Homo sapiens: one gene and its partner. The protein of the gene in region 1 interacts with the protein of each later gene in a pairwise test. Each region holds a gene or a part of one and is shown on either strand. Other genes may lie near its edges.

Evidence for each region. Proteins that work in one complex are often made in the same cells at the same time.
Region 2: the proteins of SLC30A4 (region 1) and TMEM163 interact in binary tests that used the Homo sapiens proteins (3 or more experiments, as listed by UniProt).

Annotation. Positions count from the first base shown.
Region 1 is NC_000015.10:45,520,696-45,524,643, reverse strand, and holds the start of SLC30A4 (probable proton-coupled zinc antiporter SLC30A4), read left to right. Parts: upstream 1-1,888; 5' UTR 1,889-2,037; exon of another isoform or gene 2,038-2,175; 5' UTR 2,176-2,289; coding exon 2,290-2,680; intron 2,681-3,948. UniProt on the Homo sapiens protein: Probable proton-coupled zinc ion antiporter mediating zinc import from cytoplasm potentially into the endocytic compartment. Controls zinc deposition in milk.
Region 2 is NC_000002.12:134,467,401-134,471,000, forward strand, and holds part of TMEM163 (transmembrane protein 163), read right to left. Parts: intron 1-3,600. UniProt on the Homo sapiens protein: Zinc ion transporter that mediates zinc efflux and plays a crucial role in intracellular zinc homeostasis. Binds the divalent cations Zn(2+), Ni(2+), and to a minor extent Cu(2+).

The sequences.
Region 1 (3,948 bases):
TATTAACAGGATTTTGGAAGAAGTGGATTCTAACCCTAATGGATGATTTTGAGGGATTCAAGACTTCAATGGAGGAAGTAACTGTAGATGTGGTGGAAATAGCAAGAGAACTAGAAGTGGAACCTGAAGATGTGACTGAATTGCTGCAATCTCATAAAATTTGAACAGATGAGGAGTTGCTTCTTATAGATAAGCAGAGAGAGTGGTTTCTTGAGATAGAATCTACTCCTTGTGAAGATGCTGTGAACACTGTTGAAATGGCAACAAAGGATTTGAATATTCCATAAACTTAGTTGATAAAGCAGAGGCAGGGTTTGAGAAAACTGGATTGACTCCAATTTTGAAAGGTCCACTGTGGGTAAAATATTATCAACCAGCATCACACGCCATCAAGAACTCTTTCATGAAAACAAGTCAATCAATATAGCAAATGTCATTGTTGTCTTATTTTAAGGAATTGCCACAGCCACCCCAACCTTCAGCAGCCACCATCCAGATCAGTCAGCAGCCATTAACAAGGAGCAAAGACCCTCCAACTAGCAAAGAATATGACTTGCTAAAGGCCTAGATGATTGATAGCTTTTTTTTTTTTTGAGACCGAGTTTTGCTCTTCTTGCCCAGGCTGGAGTGTAATGGCGTGATCTCGGCTCACCACAACCTTCGCCACCCGGGTTCAAGCGATTCTCCTGCCTCAGCCTCCCTAGTAGCTGGGATTACAGGCATGCGCCACCATGCCCAGCTAATTTTGTATTTTTAGTAGAGACAGGGTTTCTCCATTTTGGTCAGGCTGGTCTTGAACTCCCCATCTCAGGTGATCCGCCCGCCTCGGCTTCCCAAAGGGCCGGTATTACAGGCGTGAGCCACCACGCCCAGCTGATAGCATTTTTTTAGCAGTCATGTATTTTATTTACTTGTTTATTTTTAGAGACAAGGTCTCACTCTGTCGCCAGGCAGGGGTGCGGAGGCACAATCATAGCTCACTGTAATCTCGAACCTCTGGGCTCATGCGACCCTCCTTCCTCAGAGCAATTAACAAATGTATATATACTTTTTCCTTCCTCTCTCCCAATATTTTAAATTAAGGTATGCACATTGTTTTAGACATAACGCTATTACACGCTTAATAGACTACATTATAAACATGATTGTATTTGCACTGGGACATGAAACATTTGTGAGACCTCACTTTGTCATATTGCGGTGGTCTGGAACCAAATTCGCAGTATCTCCAAGGTATGCCTGTACTAGATTTTCTATGCTTGAGTTTAGTCCATATCGTAAATACCTTGGAGGCAAAAGGAACACGGCAGAGAGCACAAAGAGGACAATACATATTTGCTGAAAAACAGTAGGACACAGAACTGCTGACGACGACAGCCTTGCCCTCTCCAGTTGACTGCAGCAAATGTTGCCAATTTGCCAGAGACAAGCAATTCGAGGAGAGAAAAGCTGCTTGCCTTTTCAGTTAGCAAGAAAAGTGCTGGGTTTGTCTTCTGCCGAGCACCCGCAACCCAGATCCCGACCCGAGATTCCTGAGACACACTTTCGGTGGAGGGAACTCCTAGCAGCAACGCCCAGCCCCCGGCGTGACCCTCCGACCGCACTTGCCTCCCAGCCTGGGAAGGTGGAAGAGGCCGCCCAAAGTCCCCTCAGTTGGCCAGTGAGTGACCCCTGGGCGGAGGCGGCGCAGTGGCCCCCAATCCAGCCTCGGGGCGAGAGGCGGGGCGCGCCGCGCGCCCCCGCCCATCGCGGGCGCCCCAGCCCTGCGCGCCAGGCCTGCGTGTCCTCGCGCCGACCCCTCCCTCGCGCGCCTCGCCCGGCGCACGCGCGTGGCCTCGCGCAGGGCGGGGAGAGGCGGTGGCTGTGGGCGTCCGGCCCCGAACCTGTCAGACCTGGGGAGCCGGCCTCCAGCAGCGGGCGCGGCGGGCGCGAGCACGACCCCACTCTCCTGCGGCCGCGGGTGGAGCAGCGCGAGCCCGCCTCGCTGAGCCGGCCGGGGGCGGGGAGATGAGTTGCGGCCCCGCGGCAGCGCCCCAGGTATTAAATAGATGTGCCGCCCCCTCGCGGAGCCCCGGCGGAGCGTCGGGGTCGGCCCTGCGACCCGCCGCCAGCGGCTTCGGAACTTGAGGACAGGGTTGGGCGCCTTTAATTTATAACGTGTTTCGTTTTCCACAGGATGGGGAGGGACGCGCGGCACTGCCCTCGAGAACTGGCGCTCCGGTGAAGTAGGCGCCGCCGGCCGTCCGCCTCCCCCAAGCCGTTCCGCACCGCGGCCGCTCAGCCTCTGCCATGGCCGGCTCTGGCGCGTGGAAGCGCCTCAAATCTATGCTAAGGAAGGATGATGCGCCGCTGTTTTTAAATGACACCAGCGCCTTTGACTTCTCGGATGAGGCGGGGGACGAGGGGCTTTCTCGGTTCAACAAACTTCGAGTTGTGGTGGCCGATGACGGTTCCGAAGCCCCGGAAAGGCCTGTTAACGGGGCGCACCCGACCCTCCAGGCCGACGATGATTCCTTACTGGACCAAGACTTACCTTTGACCAACAGTCAGCTGAGTTTGAAGGTGGACTCCTGTGACAACTGCAGCAAACAGAGAGAGATACTGAAGCAGAGAAAGGTGAAAGCCAGGTTGACCATTGCTGCCGTTCTGTACTTGCTTTTCATGATTGGAGAACTTGTAGGTGAGTTGTGTTGCCAACTCACTTTCCGTTTACCTTTCCTCGAGAGTCTTTGTCAAGCTGTAGTTACACAGGCTTTGAGGTTTAACCCATCTTTTCAGGAAGTTTGTATTTATCAAGACACTGATCTCATGTGAAAAGGCCACACGGTTCCAAAGTGCAGCTCAATCTAAGTACAATATAAACTCCCCGAGATAACTTTGACTTTCTCTTCTAGTTGTTCAACCACTGTCATCTACCGTAAAGTTAAGGACGTTATCTTCATTGTATGTCATGTAACTTCCTCTTTTTACAAAGGTCTGGTAAAATACCAGGTTAATTTTCGCAACGTTTAAAATAGTAAATGATCGTAAATAACTTAAGATCATAGAATTTTACAGTATGAAGGGACCTTACTGAACACCTGCTCCACCTCCTTTTTTTTTTTACATGTAAGGATTTCCAGGGCACAAACCAGTGGAATAAGTCGTGAGGGCCACTTAGGGAGTTAATGGAAGAGCCACATCTACAGTCCCAGCATTTTTTTCCTCTACATTTGACCTAAGTGGTTTCTTTTATACGATTTCCTTTTGTATTTATAGCCAAGAGATTTGCAAAATTAATTACCAACTAACATGAAATTTTTGCCTCGTAAGAAGGGCCTGAAATGAACCAGAGGACTCCGCCAAAGTTCTATGAGCCTGGTTTTCTTGTTCATTTTTTAATTATACGAACAATCCGTTCTCAATATAAGATACATTCTTAGTTTAGAGGTTATTTTCAATCACGTCAGTATAACTACTAACTTCTCAGTGACAGTTTACAAAGTGACATAAAAGCAGGGAGATGATTCTTACATGTCATCTCTTAAATGATGAACCATGACAAAAACAGGTGGCAGTCCAGATTTAAGATGTTTGACTGGAGGGTTCTATGTGGGAAAAATTATATACATTTCCTACCTTCTTTCATAACACTCCTCCCCAGGGCTCGCTTCAGCCATGCTGGTCTTCTTTTTCCTCTTACAACTCACAAAGCTCTTTTTGCCTCTAAGGCGTTCAAAGTGGCTGGTCCTTCTATCTCAGTGGCTTTCAAACATTTTTTGACCTCACTGTAGTAAGAAATACACTTCACATTGTGACTCATTTAGGCATGCATGCATACATATGTATGAGAATATACACAGGTCACATGTGTATAAATATATGTATAACTGAAACAAAAGTTTTCCTTCATGTGATGTATCCTAATAGTTTCTTCAATTGTGGTCCCAGCTCACTAAATGGATTTCG
Region 2 (3,600 bases), on another chromosome or scaffold:
ATCAAGGTTCACATCACCATTATTAAGTTGTGTTGGTAACATGTGGCCCCTGATACGATGTGACAAGAAGGGCACTTTACCTCCACGGTGTTCCATCCCCAAATCCATAACCTCATTTTAACTGCGAAACAACATCAAACAAACCCAAACGGAGGGACCGTCTACAAAATACCCGACTCCTCACGTGTCAAGGTCATGAAACATGAGGAACGACCGAGAGACTGTCACACACTGGAGACTTAAGGAGATGTGACAAGTAAATGCAGCATGGCATCCAGACTGGATCCTGGAACACAAAAAGGTCATCAGTGGGAAAACCGGGGACATGAGAAGAAAGTCTAGGGTTTCGTGAATAGTGCTGTCATCTCATGGTAGAGATTAATTTGCCGTGGCTGTGTGCGATGTTAACAGTAGGTCAGGCTGGATGGAGGGGATATGGGCACTCTCTGTACTATCTGTAAAACTCTTCTATTAATCTAAAATTATTTCACATTTAAAAGCTTATTTAAAGTAATCACCTCACGGAAGTTTTACCTCCTCAAATGACCAGTAAGGACCGTCCCAAACCAGGCCTCTTGACAACTCTTCAGTCCCTCCTATGCAGAGGTTACACAGCAGGGGACACAGTGGGAGGGGGTCAGGAGCCCCACATGGAAGCTCTCTTTGTGCAGGACTCAGCCTAAGTCCAGGAGACAGCACCCACAGAAAATAAGGTGAACATGATGCTACAATCTGAGTATGTGTCCCTCCAAAATTCACACATGGAAACCTAATTGCCAGGGTGACGGTATGAGGAGGTGGGGCCTCTGGGAGGTGATTAGGCTGCAAGGACAGAGCCCTCACTAATGGAATGAGTGCCCTTATAAAAGAGGTCCCATAGTGCCAGCTTGCCCCCTCCGCATGTGAGGACACAGGAAGAAGCCACCATCTCATGAACCAGGAAAAGGGGCCCCACCAGGCACTGAATCTGCTGGCACCTTGTCTTGGACTCCCAGCCTCCAGAACTGTGAGATGGAAGTGTCTGTGGTTTATAAGCCACCCAGTCTGTGGTGTTTTGTTATAACAGCTAGAACTGACTAAGACACATGACCAAAGAATTGCATGTCAACAGCCCCAGGTGCTAACAGGACTCAGGAAGCATAGGCTGGGAGACTGAGGCAGTCAGGAAATTCAAGAACTTTGAGGTCTCAGATTTGGAGACTGAATACTCACTTTGCTTATCCCATGATGCCTGAATCCCCTTTGGCTCCATTCAGTCGCTGTTTGCAAAGCCCTCCTCCCTAAGTTTCCAGCGGTAGAGAAAATCTGTGCTTACCCCATCTAGGCCCCTAGGGCACAGGGCCTGGGGTGTGCTGCCCCACCCTGAGATGCAGCTCAAGAAACGCCACCCATGGCTTTGGTGGCCCTTCCTCCAGCTCCTAAAGGGAGCTGCAGACCCAGGGCTCGGCCGACCCAGTGGCAGTCGTGTGCCAGGCAGGCCTTTGCTCAACTCTAAACTCCATGGCTTACTGGGAAACAAACACTTGGATCTCTGTAAGCGGCAGTGGGATGCCTACAGCCCCTGGCAGCAGCTGGCAGTAAAAGGTACGAGTTGTTGTGAAGGGGCCCAAACACATGATCCACACACAAACGTCCTCCACCTGCCAGCCGCATCGGGTGCTCACGGTGAGCCCCAGACAAGCCTGGTCAGCATTCTCGTAAGAGAGACACAGGAAGCTTGTCACCGAGAAATAAGTATGCATGGTGAAACATAAAGAAACTTCAACTTCCAAGAGACCAGGACTGAGCTCCACCGCGGCCTATCCAGGGGCTGTGCGGGAAGTTTCCTGTACCTGGGAGGCTTCATCTCGGGGGAGCTCTCGATGGACCGGAGGGCCCCGAGGTCCAGCTCCTGGAGGACTCGGGTGGGCTTCCTGGAGCGAAAAAGTAGAAGCACTGGGTGGCAGCTTCAAAAGCACTGAAGCGGGAGTCCCACTTACTAGCTAGGTGACTCTGGGCAGGTCACTTAACCCCTCCCTCCCTCCACTGTCCTACCTATAAAGTGGAAAAAAATAACAGACTCCCTCACGGTGGCTGCATATACTGCGTGCACAGAGCTCAACTGGAACTACGTTGCCCAGAATTTCCTTCCTACGTGGTTCCCAGTTGAAGCTGACTCCCAGAGACATCTGCATGAGTGAAAGGTGGAGGTGAAGCGGCTCCGGTGCTGCCGCAGCTCAGCCAGGCACATTCTGCATTCTGTGGCTCCACGGGCTCGCCCAGGGGAGAGAGGGGCCGCACCGAGCCCATGGATTCTCCGCTCCTGCTGCATCTCCCCGCTCCAGCTTCGCTGAGTCATAAGCCAGGCGTGCATATAGCTCTGTGGCAAAGGCGCCAGCTTCTTCTGCAGGATGCCCAATGTCATGGAGGCTGAGACAGTGAGGGTCACGTACAGGTCCAGGCCATCTTCATGGGCGCCAGTTTGTCCTTGCGCCTTTCTCTTTGCCCAGCCTTCTTTCCTGACTGCACGGCTGCTGACTTCAGACCAACACCACACTCAGAGGCAACCGCTTTACCAGGACGTCGGCACCAGCAACCACCATGTGGAAAGTCGCACCCCTGCCACAAACCCCTATTCTGCATCACTTAGAGGGGTTTGCTTCCCTGCCTGAACCCTACCATAAAACTTCATACGAGGCTGGGCGCGGTGGCTCACGCCTGTAATCCTAGCACTTTGGGAGGCTGAGGCAGGCGGATCACGAGGTCAGGAGATCAAGACCATCCTGACTAACACAGTGAAACCTCGTCTCTACTAAAAATACAAAAAATTAGCTGGGCGCGGTGGCGGGCGCCTGTAGTCCTAGCTACTCGGGAGGCTGAGGCAGGAGAATTGTGTGAACCCGGGAGGTGGAGCTTGCAGTGAGCTGAGATAGCGCCACTGCACTCCAGCCTGGGTGACAGAGTGAGACTCCGTCTCAAAAAAAAAAAAAAAAACTTCATACGGATGTGTCATGGGGTCAAACAGGGCCCGGCACAGAGTGAATGCTATATTAGTATTGGGAAGCTAAGTTTTTTAATGTAGAGAAGCCAAGATGCAAAATGCAGGCTTTTTCTGAGCATGGGTTATTTCTACCAGCCACCCTTTGCTCCTAGGACTGGCTCTGAGAGAGCAATTACCTTTCCCTGTAGAGGAACAGAGTCTGGGGCCATCTCTGAGTGTCACGCAAAGCTGCAGGCTGCAGCTCACCACTGCTGAGTGGATCTGCCTCAGAAACAGATGAACCCTGCGGAGGAACCCAAGGAGGATCCAGGCTGGCACAGACCTGCCAAAGCTCCTCTCCCAAAACCAGCTTTCAATGTCCTGAAAGCTCTGTGATTACCCTACCCAGGCCCAGATGGCTCTCCTGCGGTGCACGTGCTCCTCTCTCCACACGGCTGCCATGTTGACTGTTGGCATGAACAGAATGTCACAGAGATGCAGTCAGCAGCCTGCTCAAGACATCAGTACCTGGCTGGGCATGGTGGCTCATGCCTGGAATCCCAGTGCTTTGAGAGGCCGAGGCGGGAAGAACACTTGAAGCCAAGAGTTCAACACCAGCCTGGGCAACATAGCGAGACCTG